Linked DNA regions of Homo sapiens. The protein of the gene in region 1 purifies or fractionates together with the protein of each later gene. This does not show direct contact. Each region holds a gene or a part of one and is shown in the gene's direction. Other genes may lie near its edges.

The links.
Region 2: the proteins of NFYA (region 1) and TES purify together in Homo sapiens (affinity purification with mass spectrometry; 2 studies listed by BioGRID and IntAct, with this or other methods). This does not show direct contact.
Region 3: the proteins of NFYA (region 1) and ME1 purify together in Homo sapiens (affinity purification with mass spectrometry; 2 studies listed by BioGRID and IntAct, with this or other methods). This does not show direct contact.
Region 4: the proteins of NFYA (region 1) and SERPINB1 purify together in Homo sapiens (affinity purification with mass spectrometry; 2 studies listed by BioGRID and IntAct, with this or other methods). This does not show direct contact.
Region 5: the proteins of NFYA (region 1) and FTO purify together in Homo sapiens (affinity purification with mass spectrometry; 2 studies listed by BioGRID and IntAct, with this or other methods). This does not show direct contact.
Region 6: the proteins of NFYA (region 1) and HMGCS1 purify together in Homo sapiens (affinity purification with mass spectrometry; 3 studies listed by BioGRID and IntAct, with this or other methods). This does not show direct contact.
Region 7: the proteins of NFYA (region 1) and IRGQ purify together in Homo sapiens (affinity purification with mass spectrometry; 3 studies listed by BioGRID and IntAct, with this or other methods). This does not show direct contact.

Annotation. Positions count from the first base shown.
Region 1 is NC_000006.12:41,079,474-41,082,973, forward strand, and holds part of NFYA (nuclear transcription factor Y subunit alpha), read left to right. Parts: intron 1-1,337; coding exon 1,338-1,424; intron 1,425-3,500. UniProt on the Homo sapiens protein: Component of the sequence-specific heterotrimeric transcription factor (NF-Y) which specifically recognizes a 5'-CCAAT-3' box motif found in the promoters of its target genes.
Region 2 is NC_000007.14:116,252,039-116,255,538, forward strand, and holds part of TES (testin), read left to right. Parts: intron 1-279; coding exon 280-438; intron 439-3,079; exon of another isoform or gene 3,080-3,500. UniProt on the Homo sapiens protein: Scaffold protein that may play a role in cell adhesion, cell spreading and in the reorganization of the actin cytoskeleton. Plays a role in the regulation of cell proliferation. May act as a tumor suppressor. Inhibits tumor cell growth.
Region 3 is NC_000006.12:83,225,052-83,228,551, reverse strand, and holds part of ME1 (NADP-dependent malic enzyme), read left to right. Parts: intron 1-1,074; coding exon 1,075-1,217; intron 1,218-3,500. UniProt on the Homo sapiens protein: Catalyzes the oxidative decarboxylation of (S)-malate in the presence of NADP(+) and divalent metal ions, and decarboxylation of oxaloacetate.
Region 4 is NC_000006.12:2,835,364-2,838,863, reverse strand, and holds part of SERPINB1 (leukocyte elastase inhibitor), read left to right. Parts: intron 1-177; coding exon 178-315; intron 316-864; coding exon 865-982; intron 983-2,613; coding exon 2,614-2,756; intron 2,757-2,840; coding exon 2,841-3,008; intron 3,009-3,500.
Region 5 is NC_000016.10:54,113,156-54,116,655, forward strand, and holds part of FTO (alpha-ketoglutarate-dependent dioxygenase FTO), read left to right. Parts: 3' UTR 1-3,500.
Region 6 is NC_000005.10:43,289,413-43,292,912, reverse strand, and holds part of HMGCS1 (hydroxymethylglutaryl-CoA synthase, cytoplasmic), read left to right. Parts: coding exon 1-65; intron 66-275; coding exon 276-439; intron 440-1,692; coding exon 1,693-1,782; 3' UTR 1,783-3,500. UniProt on the Homo sapiens protein: Catalyzes the condensation of acetyl-CoA with acetoacetyl-CoA to form HMG-CoA, which is converted by HMG-CoA reductase (HMGCR) into mevalonate, a precursor for cholesterol synthesis.
Region 7 is NC_000019.10:43,589,635-43,593,134, reverse strand, and holds part of IRGQ (immunity-related GTPase family Q protein), read left to right. Parts: coding exon 1-1,109; 3' UTR 1,110-3,500. UniProt on the Homo sapiens protein: Autophagy receptor that specifically promotes clearance of misfolded MHC class I molecules by targeting them to the lysosome for degradation.

The DNA of each region.
Region 1 (3,500 bases):
TTGAGCTAACTTGTGATTTAGTAAGTCTTTGGCCACAACAGACAAACCAACATAGCTTCCAATAAATCTTCTGTTTTTTGATTTGGTCTGCCACATTTTTTATTCAGAAAAGCTCTGGTTTAACATTAGGATAATATTTAGACAGCCATTCTTATGGATAAGACATACTAGAAAGGAATTCCCTGCTGCTGGTTTATTCCTAATTAATAGATTGCTTTCTTGAATTTATACACAGGTTACATTTTCTGATGCTTTATGCTTGGGTTTATTATAGTAAAATTTCACTTTTTTCCCCACCCCAGAAGAAAAAAATGTATTATGTTTCTATTTGACCTTAGGCCAAGATTGATATTTTGGAAATACTTTGTTTTCAAAATGGAATTTAGCTAATATAGAAAAGTAGTAGGGAAGGGAAAGGTAGTATTGATGATGAGTTTTTCCCGTCTAATGATCAAAGACGAACTCCCCTGATAGCTTTCCCTTCCATACAGCTGCTGTGGCTCTGGCAGTTTCCTTCAACTGCCTTTTTAGAGGAAGGGATTCCACAAAGGGCCCTCCATTCACACCAGTGCCCTGGAGGGTGGGTTTTTATTCTTTCAGAATTTGCCATTAGTGGATGTAAAAATAAGGTTGAATCATTGAAAACATGGCTCTTAAAGCAGTCCAGTTGGGTAGAAATAATCTTAGTTTTGAAGCTGGGCATGGTGCTGCATGCCTGTAATCCCAGCTACTCTGGAGGCTGAGACAGGAAGGTTGGCTTAAGCCCAGGAATTCAAGACCAGCCTGGGCAAAACAGCAAGACCCCATCTCAAAATAAGTACATAAATAAAGTTTAAAAAAAAAAGAATCTTAGTTTTGGGACATGAGAGCATTGACGTCATGAAGATGATTTCGGTTCATAGTGATTAATTACTCCTCCTTTCTTGGTGATTGCATTTAAGCCCAGAATTTTTTATGGTAGTTTCAGGGCTATTAAAACCTAATCATTTTTTTCTTGTGAACTCATCTGAGGAGATAAAAAGGGCATTAAACAATTGTGTAAGTAGAAGTGTCAGATTCCTGTTTCTGGAGGGAAAGATTGCATTACAAATCTTTGTGTTAATGATGACAACTGTTTTGAGTTTTTGAGTCAAATTTTTGAGGTCCACTCTGGAGACAAAGGGCTAATATCTTTAATCCTACTACCTTCAACAAAACAGCTTCAATATAGGGAGTCTGTACATTTTGAAAGTCCTTCAGGCTTCCGTCTCTCTCCTCCAAGAGGTAAGGTGATCTGTGTCTTGAACTACACATTTCCTTCCTGACATATTTCAAGCTCTTCCTGTTCCTGTTCTCAGCAGCAGGGTGGTGTCACTGCTGTGCAGTTGCAGACTGAGGCCCAGGTGGCATCCGCCTCAGGCCAGCAAGTCCAGACCCTCCAGGTAGTGGTACCCTCTCTGATTCTCTGTGAGCACTGCATGAACTTCTCCTCTCCTCATGTCTGGTGCTGTTTGTGTTAGGATCTCCAGTAGGAATGGCAAAGTCAGTTGCATGTCTTTGATGCTGCTAACTTGTCTTTGAGGCTTATAAGATGCCAGTTTCCTAATATTTCATGCCAAGTCATATAGAGACCCCGTATCAACTTTCTGAGAATTGGATTTGACTAGCATGTTTCTTTGAGAATGCCTGGAAAAGAAATGGTATAAGTGACAGGAAGAAATTCTTATAAGTGACATTAGAATTTATTCAGGGCTCGGCCGGGCGCGGTGGCTCACGCCTGTAATCCCAGCACTTTGGGAGGCCGAGGCAGGCGGATCACGAGGTCAGGAGATCGAGACCATCCTGGCAAACATGGTGAAACCCTGTCTCTACTAAAAATACAAAAAAATTAGCCGGGCATGGTGGCGGGCACCTGTAGTCCCAGCTACTTGGGAGGCTGGAGCAGGAGAATGGCGTGAACCCAGGAGGCAGAGCTTGCAGTGAGCAGAGATTGCGCCACTGCACTCCAGCCTGGGTGACAGAGCGAGACTCCGTCTCAAAAAAAAAAAAAAGAATTTATTCAGGGCTCACACTCTGATCCAATTAATTGCATGGTAAAAATTTTGTGTATTTGTGTTACAATGGAGAAGGAAATATATACATATACAGACACACATAAACTAGGCTAGGCTGTGCTTTATTTTTATTCAAGGGGCAACTCAACTGAAAAATAATCATTGCACTTGGCAAGGTTTATCTAAGCACTGAATCTTGTTAATCTCTTGTTAACTGCTATTGTTTCCACTACCTTTCCTGGGGGAATAGTGACCTGTCTTATTACTAGATCTGCAAAGATTACCCCAGATACCTCTTGGTTAGGCAGAAGCAGGATGTGCTTTCTGTAAGTCTTAGGTGTTAAAGCCACTGTGATAATTCTTGGTTAATCAATACAGTTCTTTAGCATCGTGTATGGCTAAGTATCCTAAATTGGGTTCTAATTTGGCCAGTTCCTATAAAACACAGGAGTAGCAGCACTAGTCTACTCTGTGTATGTAGGTTACTTTTATTAAAATAACTCTATTTTTGAGAAATTGGCAAGATTTGGGTACCCTACTTTTTCCCTCCATTGAATTAGAAATGATTCAAAGTAGAATCTAGAATGTAGAACTGGCATCTCACTTTATTGCTAGTGCTGCTAAGCATCCAGCAGATAACTACCTCTTATTGTCATCACTTTATCCTTTCAATCCCACCCCTACCCCTGCCACCAATAGTGTTTGGTAATGATGTACAGCCAACTTTGAACATAAATTAAGCCGAAAGAAACTGAGCTTGTAGGCATTCCAAAATTGTGTTCAAATCTCACAGTCCAACAGCTTGTTAATGTTTTTCATGCTTGCTTCATCTTACTCATATATAAAACAGTATTTTGGATTGTCATTAACCCCTTGTGGAATAGGAATGTAACATGCTCTTAACTGTATGGCTTCTTGTTTGATGCATGTGTCTTTGTAACATTTTTCTGTTGTAAATACAGTGAGCTCTTTGGAGTCTCAAATCATTTATCATGTGCACGAATAGCACATCAATTGGGGAGGAAATTAAGATGATGAATAGATAGAAAATTATTAATAGCTGTATCTTAAAACTTGTGTTTCCTACTTACATAGATTTTATTTAAAAGAAGTGGAAACACTTTATGGAAATAATAGAAACCTTTCCTCTAGGGATCTGATTATTTTGGGAGAATTTTAAATAGTTATTTTGGTTATTCTTGCTATATGTATTCTGAGAAATCTTTCTTGATACAGAATATGCAAGCATTTGGTGTAGCAAAGGGGATTTGATTTGGAATGGGGAAATAAGGGAAAGAGATAGCATGAGAGAGTCAGGCTGTAAAGTCCTTAAAAAAGTAAAGTAAAGGTTCTCAATGGACAGTTTAACAAAACTTAGGATTTCAATGTTCCTGGTGATTCTAATACATTAGTGGTGGTGGCAGTGGCGGCGGTGGTGGTGGTGATTGTAGGAGGACCTTACTATCT
Region 2 (3,500 bases), on another chromosome or scaffold:
TAGAAGGCAACAAGACTTGACCAAACAGCAGTTGCTCTGTTTACATCCAAAGAAGTTTTAAAAAATAAACTTCTGATATCATTCATTCTGTCTGTGTTAATTGGGTTGACAAATGAAAGACTAGAAATATAAAAGATTGATTTAGACTAAACTAAGTGATAGCATAAGTTCAAGCTTTAGGTTATCATTTTCAAACTTTAGACCCTGAGAAAGTATGTTGTTACAGATATAAATCTCTTATTATATAAAAATCCATCTTTATTTTTATCTTCTTCCTAGCTGATATTCAGCAATGAGTATACCCAGGCAGAAAACCAGAATTGGCACCTGAAACACTTCTGCTGCTTTGACTGTGATAGCATTCTAGCTGGGGAGATATACGTGATGGTCAATGACAAGCCCGTGTGCAAGCCCTGCTATGTGAAGAATCACGCTGTGGTGAGAAGTGTTCTAAGGATATGGTTGCCTCAGCCTGCTTTAGGACTTGAGTTTATGCTTTTCTTAAAGCCTCTTACAAATGGGAAACAGAAAGCAGTCCTCCTAAGTAGAAAGCAAATTATTCCTACCACAGGGTGTTAAAATCAAGGCAATTCAAAAACAATACATGCATTGACTATGAGCCACCTCAAGATTTCTACTTGTGAAATTTACAATATCAATTATAGGTACTGCTTAATAATAAAATCCTCACTTAAAAAAATTCTTAATGGGAATGAGATTGTTTTATTTTCATGGTTAGCAATCAGATTCCATTTCAATAAAGGTGTCTAGGGGCTATTGATATTCTTTAGCTCTATTTGAATATGATGCTTTCTGTTTGTGTTATTGGACCACCCACTGGAATTTTGTTTTTGCTACCTGGAGATTGTAAGATACCTATTTCTTAAACCCTCATTGAATTGATTTAGCATAACAAAACTTGGCCTGCGTATTTAGATTTTTGTGTGGGCCAAACATTCCAATGTGAAAGTATATTTTTTCTTGCATTTACTCTGCTTACACAGAGCTGCTGTTGTATAATGGCCAAGTGATGGTAATGTAGATAAAGGGTAAAAAGTTGACCATAGATGGTAAAGTGTATAATCCAGGAGTATCCAAATAGACATTTACTTCTTTATATGCAGCAAAACACATATGTGTTAATGGTCCCCTGAGCTATCAAGTAAAAGGGACTCCTGGCTAAGGAATGAAATTACATATGGTTTATATAGTTATATATAGTTATAAGAGTGTGGTACTGTGAAGATAAGGTAACAAGTTTTTATGTCAATGCCAATTTTCAGCGTTCACCCATTGCCCCAGATACAGTTATTCATTCTCTATCAACTGTGCCTCACCAATATATTTCACATTCTTATAATTACAACCATTCTACTTTAGACCTTTTTTTTTGTTGTTATTTTGACTATTGCAGTGGCCTCAAATTTCGTTCCTCCACTTTCATTCATCTTGCTCAAAAGCTACCCACCATAATGATGGAAAATTATCTTCCTAAAATGCAAATTATTAAACTTTTGATAGATCTGGCCCCTTCTTGCCTCTCCTGTCCCTTCTACTAGTTATCCAACGCAAATCATACATTTCCACACGTTCACCATCATTTTCTAGTTTACACACTGTTGTCTTTTGCTTACTCCTAATAGTTTTTCTAATACACCGTACTTTTCCCTGTTTTACCTGACTGTACCTACACATTTATTCCTTTAGATTCAGTTTAGGTTTAACTTTTTTTCGGAACACCTTTCCTGATTCACTATGCCCAAACTCCACCATTTCCTCCAGACTCTCCATGTTCCCAATGGTGTGTGTGTGGGTGGGTGTGTGGGGGTGTGTGTGTGTGTGAATATCATTCATCTGTCTCCTTCACTAGACTGTAAGCAGCTGGAGGGTAGAGCTTGCCTTATATCTTGCTTTCTATATCTTCAGTGTCAGCACTTAGAAAATGTTTGAGTGACTGACTCGTGTTCTTAATATTTCTCGCTTTGGGGTTACCATGGTCATTCCTTTACCTAGGGAACAAGACGTCAAATCACCATGTAACCTGATACATTATTTAGCTAAAAACTGCTTCAATGAATATTGTTGCAACAGTTTTTCTACAGACTAAAGGTATTATAATGTATACCTTTTTTTTTGCTGCTGTCTGACCTTTAGTCTCAAGGACTAGAATGTAACTCCATCAGGGCAGGGATTTTTTTATCTGCCTTTTCTATTCTGTTCCCAACACTAGGACAACATAGGTGCTCAATAAAAATTTATTGAAACAGATGAAACTGCTTTTTTTTCTTTTTTTAGCTGTTACAAGCTTCTCTGTATTACATTGTTTCTAATCAATGGCAGGGTATAACCACAGATATGATTTGTTTAAATAAAAGAATTTTCAAATTATTTAGTTTTATAGCATAGCATCATTTTGGCCAGGCATGGTGGCTCACGCCTGTAATCCCAGCACTTTGGGAGGCCAAGGTGGGCGAATCATGAGGTCAGGAGTTCGAGACCAGCCTGGCCAACATGGTGAAACCCCGTCTCTATTAAAAATACAAAAAAATTAGCTGGGCGTGGTGGCAGGTGCCTGTAATTCCAGCTACTTGGGAGGCTGAGGCAGGAGAATTGCTTGAACCTGGGAGGTGGAGGTTGCAATGAGCCGAGATCCTGCCACTGCACCCCAAGCCCAGGTGATTGATAGTGCGACACTCCGTCTCAAAAAAAATATATATATATGTGTGTGTGTGTGTGTGTGTGTGTGTGTGTGTGTGTGTAGCATCATTTCTTTTATGTTTACTTTCTCAGTGGGATATACCATTGGCCTTTGCCTAATATTAAAATGAGCATACATATCCATTGCCAGAACAGATTCCAGCTAACAGCAAAGAGAGCTACCCACACAGCATGCTACATTATATAAAATTTGGAGAAGGTTATCTAGTTCAGGGCATTGATCTGCTTAGATCTTTTCATCTTAAAGAGAGAAAATACAAATTATTTTTAGACCTGAAATCAAGTGCTCAACTCCAAACAACATTTCTGAGAAAAAAAAAAAAAAGTACCTGGAAGGAAAAAACATGGCAGATGCACCTACTTTGTCTCTGTGTAGTCACTAGAACTCCATAGTTACCCCCAGAATTCACATCCGTCAGATTCATAGGACACTCCTGCAGAGAGCTCATTACAACAGGTGTCATTAGCTCTTTTACATCCTGTGTACAAATAAGAAGAGGGATTGAAGGAAATAAGAATTCTTTGAAATATTAAAGGTTTAGGAACATGGGAAGATCAAATGGCAGGCAGGAAGTGGTGAAGCACATCATCTCCCTGAAGGGTTCTGCAGTCCCCAGGCCCTTGGCGCAGCCTGGGCCAATTTTAGATTTTTGAGGAATTAGGGAACAGTAGATTCGACCTGTGATTACATGTCAGATTTTGAATGAATGGTAATCAAATTATTAGTAAAATGAAATTTTATGAAACCCCAGACTTTAATTCTCTATACCATTTATGTGTAC
Region 3 (3,500 bases), about 42 Mb from region 1:
GACAGTGGTTCTCAAATAAGAGGGATTTTTGCCCTGCAGGAAACATTTGGCAATGTCTGGAAGCTTTGAGTTGTCTTAACTAGGGTAGCGGGGTTGGAAGGGAGTAAAGGGAGGGGCTACTGACATCTAGCAGATAGAGGCAGCGGAATGATTCTACTAAATATCCTGTAGTGCACTGGACAGCCCCTGCGACAAGGAATTATCCAGCCTAAAATGTCAATAGTGCTGAGGTTGAGAAATACTGCAGTAGATAAGACCCTCCTGGAAGACAGGGATCACATCTCACAAATCTTTATTTTCCTTATAGCACTTAATACAGTACTTACACAATGCATGTGCAGTGCAAGACTTTAAAGTGGTTTTAGAAAACTCAAAGGAATTTATGAAACTTTATTCTTTATTTTGTGCATATATAATTTTGATTTTTACCTTGTATTATACTCCATTCCTACAAGCTCTTGTGAAACAGATGACAACGTTGAAAATAATGATGATAACTACAATAAAAGAAGTACTTACTCCATGACAGGAACTTTACTAAGTGTTTAATATTGTTTTTACAAAATATATTCTGTCAATAATCTTATTGTTTTTCATTTCCATTATGCTAATTGCTTTATTCTTCTGTTAAAGTTACTTCAGTGGGTGGTACTTTACTTTTGCAGATGAATCAGATGGTTGTCTTAAGTGATAGCGTTGGTTTATAAAACTTAATTGCTTTGTAGCCTGACAAGACTGAAATATACTCATAGAATTGCTTATAAAGAAAGTTTACACATTAGATACAAATTTCCAAGTGATTGGTAACTAACTCAATGTACTATGGAAGCCAAATATTATCTTTAGTTTTTAATAGATATTTGTAGATTTGTGACCCTAAGGATTGTAAGGATTGTTGGCATTAACAAACTTGCCTCTTTTTGTCACTATACTTGAATACAAATAGTTTATATAGCATTTTGTTTAGGGTCTATTAGAAAATGAGCTGATAGATATCATTGATTTGAGGCATGGTCTTCTTGTGTGAATTAACCAATGATAGTGTTAATTACCAGCTTCATATTTCTTCATTAGGAGTTGCTGCAATTGGTGGTGCATTCTCAGAACAAATTCTCAAAGATATGGCTGCCTTCAATGAACGGCCTATTATTTTTGCTTTGAGTAATCCAACTAGCAAAGCAGAATGTTCTGCAGAGCAGTGCTACAAAATAACCAAGGTAAAGTAAAACTATAACAGATATTTTAATAATCAAATTTTTATTCATTATAGGGAGGCCTAGGATATCTAAGGTGCTTACTGTTTAAGTTTAAAAATTATACAACCAAAATGGAAAGAAAAGCACACAAATCAGAGGGATAAGAACTATTTCCTTTTCTAGAATGTTGTATAAATCCTCTTCTTCAACAAAATAAAATACATATTTTAATGTTTTACTGATAATTTTCCACAAGTGATTTGGAAATAGATATCTAAGATTTAAACATAAAAGTTAAATAGAAAGGAAGCAGCTTGGTTCTAGAGGCTTATTAAAATAGCTTTTAACTAGCTATTCCCAAACACTGAAGCATACAATGTAAAACCACAACCTTATTTTTGCTTTGCTAAATCCTGGGTTTGGGTTTTGGTACTATGGGTGGAACATTTGGGCAACTATCTTGACATCCAGCCAGACTGGGATAGGAGTCCTCAATGCTTCAACATTTTACTATGATTTATTTTATACCATGTTTGTACTAATATGTATTTGGCTGATATGCTGAAAGGAGCCTTTTTTCCCTTCAAAGACTTTAAAATATCATTACAACAAAATAGAGGTTGAGTCATATCTATCTAAAATGTTTATTTTGGAAAGAAATCCAAAATGAACTAGAGAGGTAAACATGAACGCTATGTCACTCTGCATTAACTGGAACTTAATGGCTCTATTTTAATCATATATCCTTAAATGCTCAATACTAGAATTAGTGATTTTTCTTTTTGGCAAGGAGCCACTCCATTGTTTATCTCTCTTATTTGGGATGGCATCAGTGTTCTCACTGATTTTAATTTTTATCTCATCTCTAGATTGGGGAATTTGCCTCACATTATTCAGTAGTCCTTAAATCCTTAAAGGAAAAAAAAGTCCTTTCAGCAACAACCAAGTCTTAGCATCATGCCTTGCACCTACTAGGCATATAATAAACAAGTGTTTAATTAATTATTTTGTCTTAATATATCTCAACAGGCCTCAAGGGTTAAGAGACTTATCTATAACACACATAAACAAAATTAGCCAAATTTATGTAGTTGTATTTTAAACTTTGAATGTGTCTGATATAAATGTATGCCTCAACTCTTTCTTATCATCTTGCCTAATGTTCTATGTTTTTCTACATAAAACATTGAAAGTTATTTTGAGGATGAAAATTTAGACACTGGTTTGGCTAAAGGATTGGAGAAAAAGGAAAGGTCTGCCTGTTGCTGGATGTGAGTTTCTGCTACTGTAGGCACAGGTGAAGATAGGAAAGGTTAAGTTACAATATACAGAAAGACTATTGAACCATAAAAATATAATCTAAAAATGGTATGGGAAGGTTCCCTTCACCATGTTAATAACATATATATATGAGAATATTTAGCTAGCTACAGTACTGTCATTTATTTAATGACATTTCTCCTTAAAATATGGTGATTATAGAAAGGCAGGAAGAGTGGGAGTGCAGGAGTGGGGGAGATATATATATATATATATATATATATATAATGTTACAGGCCTCTTTCTCAAATATAATTTTCCAAAACCTTTATATATGAAGTAATAATTTAGTTACATTAGAAAGTTGTTTATAACAAAATGTTTTATCTGCTAAAGAGCTTAAGGTATCAGACTTGTCTGAAAACAAAACCGAATTCTGTGCAAAACATAACAGTGTCTTATAAACAGCTAGATGAGAATTTGTTTTTCTGCCTCATCTATTTTCATCTTTTTGTCTCTCAAAGAAGGTTGAATTTCTGTTATACAACTTTAAGAACAACTAAAAGGTATATTATGACATTTGCTAAAAATAGGTTAATATTAATATCATTATTTAGACTCTAGATCCAAGAGATATGAAAGTTAAAACCCATTCTGTCATCGTTTAAACTATGCCTTGGGGATTTGATGCTTTAGACTTTTCAAATAGATTTCTTAGACTGTGATGCTTTATTTGTTTAGGGTTTCTGATTCCTACTTTGAAGCCTAAATACTCTCAACTAGATGTCCACTCTCACCATCACAGACAAATGTTCTTTTGATTAGCAATATGAAATGCAGCACCTAACAGGCCCTAGTTAATGCCTTTTTTTTTTTTTTTTTTTTTTTTTGAGATGGAGTCTCGCTCTGTCACCCAGGCTGGAGTGCAATGAATGGCACGATCTCGGCTCACTGCAACCTCCGCCTCCCAGTTTCAAGCAGTTCTCCTGCCTCAGCTTCCTGAGTAGCTGGGATTACAGGTGCCCACCACCACACCCAGCTAAT
Region 4 (3,500 bases), about 38 Mb from region 1:
AATTTTGGATTTCCTATTGTTTGTTCTGCAATGACAAATTAATAAAGTATTGGGTTTGGGATCATCAATAATTAGTAATAAAAACACATTAATTTAATGTGATAGAAGGAAACACCAAGGAATCACTTTATAGTTTCAAAATAAATGGTTGTAGAAAGAAGATTTTCTTTATTTTAGACTTTCCATTTCAACACGGTTGAAGAGGTTCATTCAAGATTCCAGAGTCTGAATGCTGATATCAACAAACGTGGAGCGTCTTATATTCTGAAACTTGCTAATAGATTATATGGAGAGAAAACTTACAATTTCCTTCCTGTAAGTACTTTGCCCTTCACATTCTAAAACCCCACTAGACAGTGCAGATATTTTCCAGCACAATCAAGTCATGGAGGTCAGTTTTAATATTTGTAAACTTTCAGAAAAACAATACAGAAGGCAAACATGGCAAAAACAATATGGAAGGCAAACACGACAGAATGCAAACTTTAATTGACATGGTGATTTTGTGTTACAGTCTTTTTAGTGAAAAGATAGCTCTTGGAGGTTTTACTGAAGCAAGAGTACAATCAGTGTTTGTGAAATCTTAGTCAAAGTTCAGAAAAGAGTGGTAATTTCTATATAACAACAACAGTATAAGGGTTAGGCTTACCACTACTGGAATGCACAGTTAAAAGTGGCTAAGATCGTAAATTTAATGTTAAATGATTTTTACTACTATAAGAAAAACTATAAGAGTTAGAAATTTTGTGTTACATGGAATTGTAGCCTTTTAGGACAATTTCTGTTGCTTTTTGGGATTTTAGAAAACAATTTCTATATGTAGTAGGAGTTATATATATATTTCCTTTTCCTTTTTTTTAATAGGAGTTCTTGGTTTCGACTCAGAAAACATATGGTGCTGACCTGGCCAGTGTGGATTTTCAGCATGCCTCTGAAGATGCAAGGAAGACCATAAACCAGTGGGTCAAAGGACAGACAGAAGGTGAGAGCCTGGGCAGAATGGAATCATTATGCGCTGGTCATGTCATTCGTTTCCTCAGTCCGCCTTCCCTACCTGCAGTTATTCCCTCCCCAGCTCCCACAGTCCTGGCGCACATCGTGGTTACAGTCAGAGGACGCTGCCGGTGCGTGAAGTCTGCACTGCACGTTGCTGGACAGCTCTCACATGTTCGAAGTTCACCAGAGTGGAAACTTAAACATGATTTAACTCAAGCAGCTAAATCCTTTTTTCTCATCAGCTCCCCAAAACTTTTAAAGTTGCATTTCAAAGTTAAAACCAACATTGGCAGGCGCGGTGGCTCATGCCTGTAATCCCAGCACTTTGGGAGCCCAAGGCGGGCGGATCATTTGAGGTCAGGAGTTCAAGACCAGCTTGGCCAACATGATGAAACCCTGTCTCTACTAAAAATACAAAAAATTTAGCCAGGTGTGGTAGCACACACCTGTAATCCCAGCTACTCTGGAGGCTGAGGCAGGAGAATCTCTCGAACACAGGAGGTAAAGGTTACAGTGAGCCGAGATCATGCCACTGTACTCCAGCCTAGGCAACAGAGCGAGACTCCGTCGTAAAAAAAATAATAAAAATAATAAAAAATAAAAAATAAAGTTAAAACCAACACTGAATACAGCAAAAAAGGAATTAAAATTTTGAGGAGAATTCAGCCTGCCAAAAATTACCTAATACTCATATGGAAAGAAATGTCCTGGAATTTCATGGAAATACCTGAAATCAATATTCACAAACTACTGTGGTTGTAAATTTTTTGCCAACATCTTGTCCAGTAAAAAAGTTGTGGTAGGTGGGGACTGACTTGCTTTTAGGGTGCAATTTATTTCTTTGCTACATCTCTCTTCTTACATAGCCCTGTATTAGTCAACCCACTCCAGAAGACCTGTCTTCCATTATGGGAATTGTTCCCAGCCATACTTATGGTCACGAAGGTGACCTTTATTTCCATGGAGTATGTTCTGCTGGTTTTTTTGTTTGTTTGTTTGTTTTTTGTTTTTAAGAGACAGAGTCTTGCTCTGTCGCCCAGGCTTGAGTGCAGTGGTGCGATCGTGGCTCACTGCAGCCTTGACCTCCTGGGCTCAAGGAATCTTCTCATCTCCACCTCCCAAAGCACTGGGACTGCAGGTGTGCGCCACCATGCTTGGTCTTGTTCTGCCTTTTGGATATTGTTTAAACCTTTTTTTGTGAGAGTAGGCATCTACTCAGCGATTTGAAGAAGTGATTTACTGATGACTAAAGATATCTTCATTAAGAATTTTTTTTTTCTAAAAAAGAATGGTTGTTACAAAATAAGGCTCATTGTTTATCATACAGTCCAGAAAAGGAGAATTTTCCTGTCTTTTGTCTTTCGGCACATTTGACTTGTTTAAAATGTCAGGTCCTTGTGGGAAGTTTGTGTGTCATCCTGGTCTGTCTGCCCCACAGGTTGTTATACTTAAAGTAGAGACATGTTAGTGAGTAGGGCTTTCCTAAGTTAATATCTTGTTAAATGAAAATTAAGTAGAAATTATATATTTGAATTGCATTTCCGTGCTAATATATTGTCAGTTCAAATTTGGAATTCCGATTTGGATTTTTTTTACGCTAACTTGATTTTTTTTTAGGAAAAATTCCGGAACTGTTGGCTTCGGGCATGGTTGATAACATGACCAAACTTGTGCTAGTAAATGCCATCTATTTCAAGGGAAACTGGAAGGATAAATTCATGAAAGAAGCCACGACGAATGCACCATTCAGATTGAATAAGGTGAGGTGAGGTAACTGTACAGAGTCATGCATTGCTCTAAAAGAATGCAGAGAATAATTTCAGTGATTTTTTAAAACTGTTCAGAAAGACAGAAAAACTGTGAAAATGATGTATCAGAAGAAAAAATTTGCATATGGCTACATCGAGGACCTTAAGTGCCGTGTGCTGGAACTGCCTTACCAAGGCGAGGAGCTCAGCATGGTCATCCTGCTGCCGGATGACATTGAGGACGAGTCCACGGGCCTGAAGAAGGTATGGCTCCTGGGCTTCATGCTTTGTGGTTCCTCTTGCATGTGTGTGTCGCATGGTAGGTAGGTGCTTGTTAAGTGTTCACTGATGGTGCATTTTCCAGTAGTTTGTCATTCCTTTGTAAATGTAGCCCATCAACACTTACTACACTAAAGCCCAGAGTTAATTTTTTTTTAAATTTACTTATAGAGACAAGGTCTCACTATGTTGTTTAGGCTGGTCTTGACCTCCTGGCTTCCAGCAATCCTCCTGCCTCAGCCTTCTGAGTAGCTGGGACTATAGCTGTGAGCCACTGTGCCCGGCTAACGTTTCATTTTTCAAGAAAGATGGCCAGCTACTTTCAGTGGACACTTGTGATGGGGTCATTAAAGATCTATACTAAATATAATACTGGTTAGTGGCAGCTCATGGAAAGGCTCTTGAATTAGCTTTAGAGGAAATTACAGTAAGATGAGGATTGTTTTACTGAGGAAAAAGATTGAAAAGCCCCAAATA
Region 5 (3,500 bases), on another chromosome or scaffold:
CCTGGATGTAGATGTTTTCCTCTCTCTTGCTGACCCCTCCGCCAGTTTTGTCTTGTGATGCCATTAACACATCTCTCCCTTTCTGACCTGGCTCCTGCCCATTGGTGTCCCAAGAAATCGTGAGAATAGTTAGCCCCCCGTCTCCCCAGCCTGTTGCTTTCTCGTGTAGTTGTTCACAGTAGTTGAGAAGTTGAAGAGCTTTTGCCTATTGAAGGTGCACTGAGAATAAACTCTTTCCTGCCACCAGAATTGCAGTGGTTCACGGCCTGCACTCATTCCCATGAATGCAGTTAATAGCCACAGAAATGTCACATTAAGCAAAGCAGCCAGGGTCTCATCGTGTTGAGACTCGAGTCTCTCAGACCTTGGATTCATTCCCTGGTGTCTTTGAGCCTCAGTTTCCTCATTGGTAAAAGAGAAGTGAAGCAGTGTCTCACAGGGTCATTACAGAGATTAAATGAAATAAATGAAATAACATAGACCAGGAGGGCGTGGTGTTTAAAAGTCACAGATGGGGCACCCTCGGGCCATCCAGCCCAGTGTTTTCTTTAGCCCCTATGATGTTCATTTTTTGTTATATCCCATTAGGTGCCCATATTTAAAAATTGGGAGATTTCACATAAAATTAAAAGGTCTGCATTTTCTTTTTTCTTTTCTTTTTTTTTTTTTTTGAGACACAGTCTCACTCTGTCACCAGGCTAGAGTGCAGTGGCACGATCTCAGCTCACTGCAACCTCTGCCTCCCAGGTTCAAGTAATTCTCCTGCCTCAGCCTCCCAAGTAGCTGGGACTACAGGCACGTGCCACCACGCCCAGCTAATTTTTGTATTTTTAGCAGAGATGGGGTTTCACCACATTGGCCAGGATGGTCTCGATCTCAACCTCGTGATCCACCCACCTCGGTCTCCCAAAGCGCTGGGATTACAGGCGTGAGCCACCGCGCCAAGCCAAGGTCTGCATTTTTCTTTAGAACTCAGAACACCCAATAGTCCTAGGCCCCCATCCTCGCATGGCAGCAAGCTAAATAAGCATCTTCCCACTGCGAGTTGGGGCATGACCCAGCCTATGGTTTGCCATACTCCCTCTTTTTCTCCGTTTTTTCATTAATTGTGAACCTGACCTGCATCACCCTTTCATGTCAGTGCTCTCCAAACCTGCTTGCTTGCACCCCTCTAGTCGAAATATTTTGTGCTTACCCCAATATATGTGTGTGACTATTGAACTCTATTCGTAGACTGCTTGTACTAATGTCATTTGCATCATAAAATATTCATATCCAATAAACATATTAAAAGGATGAGATAAGAAACCGAGAGATTTTGCTGTTTTTTTCCTTTTGCATGGATGAGCCAGCTTCACTGTCCTGGGTGGGGCCCAGGTGGAATTAGTTCTCAAAGTCCTCCAGGTGGAGTCAGGGAATGTGCAACAGGGTTGGAGAAATCACTACTTTAAGTGAATCCGAAAGGTGAGATCACATTTGCTCTAAAGAAATGGTGATCCCAGCACTTTGGGAGGCTGAGGCAGCAGATCACTGGAGGTCAGGAGTTCGAGACCAGCCTGGCCAACACGGTGAAACCCCGTCTCTACTGAAAACACAAAAATTAGCTGGGTGTGGTGGTGTGTGCCTGTAATCCCAGCTACTCGGGAGGCTGAGGCAGGCAAATCGCTTGGCCCGGGAGGCGGAGGTTGCAGTGAGCCGAGATCATGCCACTGCACTCCAGCCTGGGCCACGGAGCGAGAGAAGAAAGAAATGGTGACTTTCATTGATCATGTGTTTGAGGATTTCATGTGCTCTCCAGGGAGGTTTCAGGTGGGTAGAAGGAGGTGGGCAAGACCCAATAAAAAAGCAGCTGGTGCGGGCAATGACAATGAACTCGTATCCTGCAGGGTCAAAGGAAGGCTTGCTTCTGCTGTGAATTGGAGAAGGACTTTCCTGGAAGCACAGGCCCAGAAATCGCACCCTTCTCCCCATGTGTGCGGATAAGGGACCACTTCCATCAGCAGCAGCCCCCTCCTGCTTTCCTGCCAGTCCTCCCTGTGGTCCCAGGTCTCTTGAGAAAAGTGATCTAAGAGATCCCTTTGCAATGAGGTGCTACTGACTGCCCTACCTCCCTCCCTTCCTCCCATGAATGTTTCTTGGTGCTGACCACAGCCTCAGCAATGAGGCAAGCCTGGGGACCCAAGACAGATCTCTGCCTCCCAGGCTAGTGGATGCCCTGGGATATGTAGTCACCAAAATAGGAACTTACCCCATAGTGGGGAAATAGACAGTAAGCAGCAAATCAATAACAAGAGTGTTCCAGATGGTTGTAAGTGCCAGGAAGGGAACCAACTGGGAGAGGGACAAGAGGAGATGGTGACTGACCAAGGGGACCTTGATCAGGCTGTGGGGAAGGGAGGTGGTTGGGAAGAGCTTCCCAGGAAAGGGGACGGCGGGCCCAGGCAGGAGAGCCTTGGGAGGGGGTGCCCAAGGAAGGAAAAGGGCCCTGAGCCTGAAGCCGAGAAGACCAGGAGGGGAGAAGGGGAGATGTAGGGCAGAGCAGACGGGAGCCGCTCGGGTTTTATTCCACACACCCCAGGAAGCATGAGAGGGTTTCAAGCAGCAAGGGCATGGAAGTAACTTGGTGAGATATTTTTATGCATTAGATCATCGCTCTATCTGGATTCCAGAGGGTCTCTGAGAGAGCAAACAGCTTAATCCAAAGGAGCGGCTTTCCAACTGGGAATGTCCCCCTGGCTGGGTGAGATCTCAAGATGGCCTGCGGCCCCTCTAGATTGCCTGCCTACAGAGTTCACTCTAAACAGCCCCTCCCCTCCACACCCCAGCAGATCCATTCCTGACGCCCTCACTGGCAGGCTCCAGCCCCACAGAGCTTTCTAGACATAAAAGAGCAGGGTCATGGCATCATTGGTGACACAATTTTAGTAATAAGCTTCAAAACCCATCACTCCACTGAATCCAGGGATGCCAGAATTGAGAGTCCATAGGACCCGTTTAACGGATCCCACATTCAGTAGACGGTTTTTTGTATGCTTCGAGGGAAGGAAGGTATTTTCAAATGCAACTTCTTTTTTTTTTTTCTTGCTCTAGTTAGGGCTGATTTTACCACTGGGCAAATTGCATACATTTGGATCCATGCCACGCTAAAAACTGTTTATTTTGGAGATCTGTCAGAGGCAAGCACATGGAAGACAAGGGGATTCTGGTTTGAAAAGGCAATTCTCATCCAGACAGATTCAGATGGAGAGGAGCGGTGTGGATTAAAATGCGCCGAAGTGGTAATGCCGTTTATCCCGTTTGCCTTTGTTACTCTGTGATTAAATGGTATTTTTAATTAAGTTTCATTGGGAGCCATAGGTATCGCGGTGGTGAAATCAATTTGACAACCATAAAGGGGAGAGACGGCACAGGCGTGTTGTGATGATTGCGGCTGTAGGGAAAGCCGGGCAGCTTGCAGAGGATGGGTGGGAGGAGGGGAAGCCGGCTAAGAATGACTTCCT
Region 6 (3,500 bases), on another chromosome or scaffold:
AACTGGTGTGGCACCAGATGTCTTCGCTGAAAACATGAAGCTCAGAGAGGACACCCATCATTTGGGTAAAAATATTAAATGTTCTTTAAGTTAACCCATTTGGAGGGCTGATATCATTAAGGATGCTACATATACGATAAGGATATCAAGACTTTACTCAGTACTAATCTGATGTCAGTGAAAATTATTGGGATATATGAAACTTATCTTTAGCTTTATTACCAGATGAATTGTATATCATAACTAATTGTAGATATTCTCTCCCTTTCCTTTAGTCAACTATATTCCCCAGGGTTCAATAGATTCACTCTTTGAAGGAACGTGGTACTTAGTTAGGGTGGATGAAAAGCACAGAAGAACTTACGCTCGGCGTCCCACTCCAAATGATGACACTTTGGATGAAGGAGTAGGACTTGTGCATTCAAACATAGCAACTGAGGTAAATAAAAGAGTTCCCATCTCCATATCTTAGGGTTTAGGAGACCTAACTGGGATTTAGCAACATAAATAAATGTCAGTAAAGAAGAGTAAGGGCTCTGGGAGTAGATTCTAGCTGTACTATTTCCAATTGTATAAAGTGCTTTGCATTTGAATTATTAATATTTTAAGAATATACAGTAAAGGCCGGGTGCGGTGGCTCACGCCTGTAATCCCAGCACTTTGGGAGACTGAGGCAGGCAGATCACGAGGTCAGGAGATCAAGACCATCCTGTCCAACATGGTGAAACCCTGTCTCTACTAAAAATACAAAAATTAGTTGGGCTTGGTGGCACGTGCCTGTAATTCCAGCTACTCAGGAGGCTGAGTCAGGAGAATGGCTTGAACCAGGGAGTCAGAGGTTGCAGTAAGCTGAGATCACACCACTGCACTCCAGCCTGGCGACAGAGCAAGATTCCATCTCAAAAAAAAAAAAAAAAAAAAAAAAGAATATACAGTAAATACTAGGTTTTATTAATGATACCAGGATTTAAAGGAAGACTGATATAGAGAGAAGGTTCATTTGTGGTGTGTGTCTTTGTGAGAGATGGAGTAGAGGGACAAGGATCCTTTCACATCTCATCCCAGATCATGGTCAAAATCTGTCCTCAAATTGTCAAGAAGTAACAATCATAGCTATGATTTGAATTCCTGTTACCTGCTAGGCACTTTACTTACGTTTTCTTATTTAATCCTTACAACAACCTCCTTGAAGTTTATAAATGATACTGTCCTCCCTTTAGAGATGAGCCTCCAAGAAGTTACATTACTTGCCCAGGATTATAGGTAGTAAGTATTAAAGCCAGGTTATAAACTAAGGACTTTATAACCTTGAAACTACTTATTTATCTGCTTACTACAAGTTTGGTAAATGGATAGTCTTGCTTTTTGCTATTATACAAATTAGGTAGCAAGTCAAACCGCCACTGTTTGAGTTGCAAATACAAGACGTAACAAGTAAAATACTGTTACGTGGTGGGTCTCTGTGGCAGGCTTCCTCTCCCCCCCATATGGATAATTGTATACTAAATTCACCATAAGGTGAAAAATGGATATTGAGTTCCCTTCATGAAAAGTTATATAAAATATATATTTAGCATAAACTTCTCCAGAGTTGTCCTTTATTAAGTTTCTTTACAGAAACTTTAATTGGTGCCATGATTCTTGTGGGGGAAAGAATCATAAGAGCCATCAACTTTTTTCCTTTCATTTTAGCATATTCCAAGCCCTGCCAAGAAAGTACCAAGACTCCCTGCCACAGCAGCAGAACCTGAAGCAGCTGTCATTAGTAATGGGGAACATTAAGATACTCTGTGAGGTGCAAGACTTCAGGGTGGGGTGGGCATGGGGTGGGGGTATGGGAACAGTTGGAGGAATGGGATATCTGGGGATAATTTTAAAGGATTACATGTTATGTAAATTTTTATGTGACTGACATGGAGCCTGGATGACTATCGTGTACTTGGGAAAGTCTCTTTGCTCTATTTGCTGACATGCTTCCTGTTGTGGTCTGGCCAATGCCAAATGTACTCGAATGATGTTAAGGGCTCTGTAAAACTTCATACCTCTTTGGCCATTTGTATGCATGATGTTTGGTTTTTAAACATGGTATAATGAATTGTGTACTTCTGTCAGAAGAAAGCAGAGGTACTAATCTCCAATTAAAAAATTTTTTAACATGTAAGAATTTTGTACTTTGAACAACAAGATTACAGAAAGTACCTGTGGTTTTTGGAAAACATTTCTAGCTTGGGGAATGTGACAACATTCCCCAGTGTGGTAAAATTGGGGTAAAATGTGGTAAAATGTGATACGCACAAACCCTTTGAAAATAGCAAAACAAACATGCCCTTTTTCTAAAATTGATAAATCCTAAAGAGGAAGAAAAGAGCTGGGACAATAAAACACTGGCTCTGGAATCTGGAATGTTAAGTCCAGGCCAGCAGTGACAAAAGTTATTGTAATGACCTCTGAACAGAGAAACACTGCCATTGAAGAGGCTTCTGGTATAGAAAACATGGTACATTCAGGAGCTGTGAATATAGCTCTAGGTGTGCTCCTGAATCAGTTCATGGTAGATTATGCTGAACAACAGTGAGATGTTATTGGAGGTGTGGATGAGGGAGTTTGTTGTTGCAGTCCTTCTTTGCACCTTATTTTAAAGAATAAATGAAACATTTTTCTGGTTACTTTTTTAAAAATTTAAAATGGAAGGGAAGAATAGGGGCAGGGCATTATTAGGCTATTTCTGATGCTTCAGTGTTATAAATTCAACATAGAGGCTGACAACCTAAATTCATGGTGTAACACAGCTCTTTTCCTTTTCCTTTTTTTTTTTTTTTTGGTATCTGTTCAATGAAAATAAGGTATGACCCAAGTTTTTACCTAGTCTGACTAGAAGTATTCCACTTCAAGGTCTGAAGTAGGACTTTTACCTTAAAAAACAACAACAAACAAAACTATCACACAGGATAGATAAGAAGATTGGTTAAACAGTTTTGTGTAGATCTTTTTGGTGCTGAACTATGACATGAGCCTTATAGATTGTAAAATAGGGATAGTTGGAACTAATGTACAGAACTAAATTTTTTAAACTTTATTTGCTGTTAAATTCTGTGAAGTTTCAGTTATCTAAAATAAATATACACAAATATGAAATATAATGTTTCAGATTGCAAGGTAATATGTAATAGTAGTGTTTGTAAGATACTCTTGTCTAATATTAACTAGTAGTATTTTGATTTGTACAGTCATAATTTGTTAAAATGACTTCATTTAACATTCACTGATGTAGATTAATAATGTAAGTTCTGATTTAAAGAATGGTGGCAAAATGGTGCATGTAATACTTTTGCAAGTGTTGGGGAGATCGGTATGTTTTGAAAAGAGTAATTTAACTTTTGGGTGCCAGGAAATGGGTTTTCTCAAAGTCCATTGCCGGCAATGGGCAGGCCTGCAAATACTGGCACAGAGCATTAATCATACACCTTATTAACGGTGAGGTGAATAACTTTGAAATAAAG
Region 7 (3,500 bases), on another chromosome or scaffold:
CTTCGGTCCCCACAGCACCCACTCCCTTCCCAGCCCCAGAGCGCCCGAATGTGGTGCTCTGGACCGTGCCTCTGGGCCACACGGGCACTGCCACCACCGCGGCCGCCGCCTCTCACCCAACGCACTACGACGCCCTCATCCTCGTCACCCCTGGGGCCCCCACTGAGAAGGACTGGGCCCAGGTCCAGGCCTTGCTGCTACCAGATGCGCCTCTTGTCTGCGTGCGCACAGACGGCGAGGGCGAGGATCCGGAGTGTCTGGGAGAAGGCAAGATGGAGAATCCCAAGGGCGAGAGCTTAAAGAACGCAGGTGGAGGGGGATTGGAGAATGCACTCAGTAAGGGAAGGGAGAAATGTAGCGCTGGATCGCAGAAAGCAGGCAGCGGGGAAGGTCCTGGGAAAGCTGGCAGCGAGGGTTTGCAGCAGGTTGTCGGCATGAAGAAATCAGGTGGTGGCGACTCAGAGCGGGCCGCTGCGTTAAGCCCGGAGGACGAGACGTGGGAGGTGCTGGAGGAGGCGCCGCCGCCAGTGTTCCCCCTACGGCCTGGCGGACTCCCAGGGCTATGCGAATGGCTGCGGCGAGCGCTCCCCCCAGCCCAGGCAGGGGCACTGCTGCTGGCGTTGCCACCAGCATCTCCCAGCGCTGCCCGAACCAAGGCTGCGGCGTTGCGAGCCGGGGCGTGGAGGCCAGCTCTGCTGGCTAGTCTGGCGGCGGCGGCGGCACCACTCCCAGGGCTGGGCTGGGCATGCGACGTGGCACTTCTGCGGGGTCAGCTGGCGGAGTGGCGACGGGGCCTGGGGCTGGAACCCACGGCACTGGCTCGACGTGAGCGTGCCCTGGGCCTGGCTTCTGGAGAGCTGGCAGCGCGCGCTCATTTCCCAGGCCCGGTGACGCGCGCCGAGGTGGAAGCAAGACTGGGCGCCTGGGCGGGCGAGGGCACTGCTGGGGGCGCAGCACTGGGGGCTCTCTCCTTCCTGTGGCCTGCGGGTGGTGCAGCGGCGACAGGTGGCCTGGGCTACCGAGCGGCTCACGGCGTCCTGCTGCAGGCTCTCGATGAGATGCGGGCTGATGCTGAGGCTGTGCTGGCACCCCCTGAGCCTGCCCAGTGAGGAGTGGGAGGGGGCTTGGGAGTCCAGACTCTGACAGGGGATGCCTGGGCTTAATCCTGGGTGCTTGAAGGGGATGTGGACTCTTGACTTCCAGCTGGGATGTGTGACTTCTTATCACCTGGATTCAGAGAGTCTGGGGGACAGGAATCCTGATTTTTTTTTTTTTTTTTCTTTTTTTTGTGAGACGAAGTCTCTTGTTGCCCAGGCTGGAGTGCAATGGCGCGACCTCGGCTCACTGCAACCTCCGCCTCCCGGGTTCAAGCGATTCTCCTGCCTCAGCGTCCGGAGTAGCTGGGATTACAGGTGCCTGCCACCACACCTGGCTAATTTTTGTATTTTTAGTAGAGACGGGGTTTCACCATGTTGGCCAGGCTGGCCTCGAACTCCTGACCTCAGGCGATCGACCCGCTCCGGCCTCCCAAAGTGCTAGGATTACAGGCGTGAGCCACCGCCCCTGGCCAGGAATCCTGATACCTTTGGGAACCATGGTGAATGACATCTAGACCCTTCTGTCCTGAAGGGAGTTGGTGGCCCAGACTCTAGCAGGGACTATGTCTTTGTCTCCTAGGGAGTAGAAACTGGAGTTACTGGATGTTTAGTCCTCCAGGGAGGCTGGTAGAAGTCCTGTTTCCTAATTGGTGGGGAGGTGTCCATGACTGGGACCTGAACTCCAGTATAGGGGAGGGAGACCTGAGCGCCCCAGGGAGCTGGAACTCTTGGGCTTCAGAGCCTCAGAGGGAAACAGGGTCTACATTTCTCTGGGAGAAAAAGCCTGCACACAGGTCCCCAAGGAGCAGTGGGCTTTGAATCTTGATGGGGTGGCGGAGGCCCCTGGGGTCTGAGACTTCCGGGGTTCTAAGATGGCTGTGGACCTTGGTTCCTAAATATTGGGTAAGGGGAGGTCTGCATCTGGAGGAGGGATCGGGGGCTTGTGCGAGAAAGCTGGAGACTTCTTGATCTCTCCTGGGGAGTGGATGGGTTTCTATAATTGCCCTCCAAAAGCATGTAGGGAGGGTGGTCCCACAAAAATGAGGTGAGGTGGGTAAGAGGTCTGGGCATGGTGGGCTCTGGGAGTAGCCAGGGACCAGGAATGAGGTCTTTTGGGTGTGGAAGGGCAGTAAAGCATACCTCAGAGACAGCTCCTCCAAACCTTGTATTGGGATCCCGGCAACTGCCTCTGTGAGTGTGACTGGGAAGGGATATGACTGCCTTCATCTTCTAGGTGCTGAGCAATTCAGGTGATCTCTGGGGAGTCTGTTTCTCTGTCTCTTTTCTTTAGGAGTTTCTATCTTTTTTTGGCCTTTTTCTCCTGGTATTTAACCATAACCCTTTATGGCCTTGGTGTTTTGTGCACCTTCCTTTTCAGAAGAGCAGCTGTACTGCTGCACTGGTCCAAACACTTCTGTATGGACACCTCGGGTATCCCCAAGAGGCTCTGCTTTCTGATGTACATAGAGGGTGCTGCATTGAGCCAGGGGCCCACCAAATGGGTGGTCAGGCACTTGAGACCATGGGAATATGCCAGGAGTGAATGAAGCAAAGGCAGAAACCACAGTGCCTGGAATGTTCTAGGCTGCTAGCCACATGTGGGGGAAAAGTTGCAGGTTACAGAATTCTTCAGTGTCAAAAACAGAAAAGGAGGATCTGAGAATCCAAGCGATAGAATCCCTTTTGTCGTAGACAGAAAGAGCAAAGTCCAGAGAGGGCAGGCTTGAGGCCCAACAGCACACAGTAAGGCCCTGTGGGTCTGGCCCTTGCCTATTCTCATTCACTGCCCCTTCCCACTCCTGTCCAGCCTGATAGACTTTCCTTCTTTTTTTTTTTGAAATGGAGTCTCACCTTGTCACCCAGTCTGGAGTACAGGGATGTGATGACTGTAGCTGAGATGACAGGCATGTGCCACCACACCTGGCTAATTTTTGTAGTTTAGTAGAGAAGGGATTTCACCCTGTTGGTCAGGCTGGTCTCGAACTCCTGACCTCAGGTGATCCACCCGACTCAGACTCCCAAAGTGCTGGGATTACAGGTGTGAGCCATCATGGCCGCCTGACTCTTTCTGATGCCTGAGTGGCTACCTTGAGTCCTGCCTGGGGACCCATGCACCTGCTGTTCTCTTTCCTTCAAGGCTCTACTCACAACTTCCTGTTCTACTCTCAAACCTTCCTGTGACGGGCTCAGTCAGATCTCAGCTCACGTATCCCCTCAGAGAGGACTTCCCCTCCCTGACCACCCTATCTGAAGTAGCTCACATTCCCCCACTATTCATTTCGGCCAGTTGAGTTTCCTTGTAGCAATTATTACTGTCAAAAATGATCTTATTTATTTACCTGTTTATTGGCTTTTGACCCGTTGCCTGTCCTGTTCTCTGTTGTTTCCCCAGCATCTAGAACA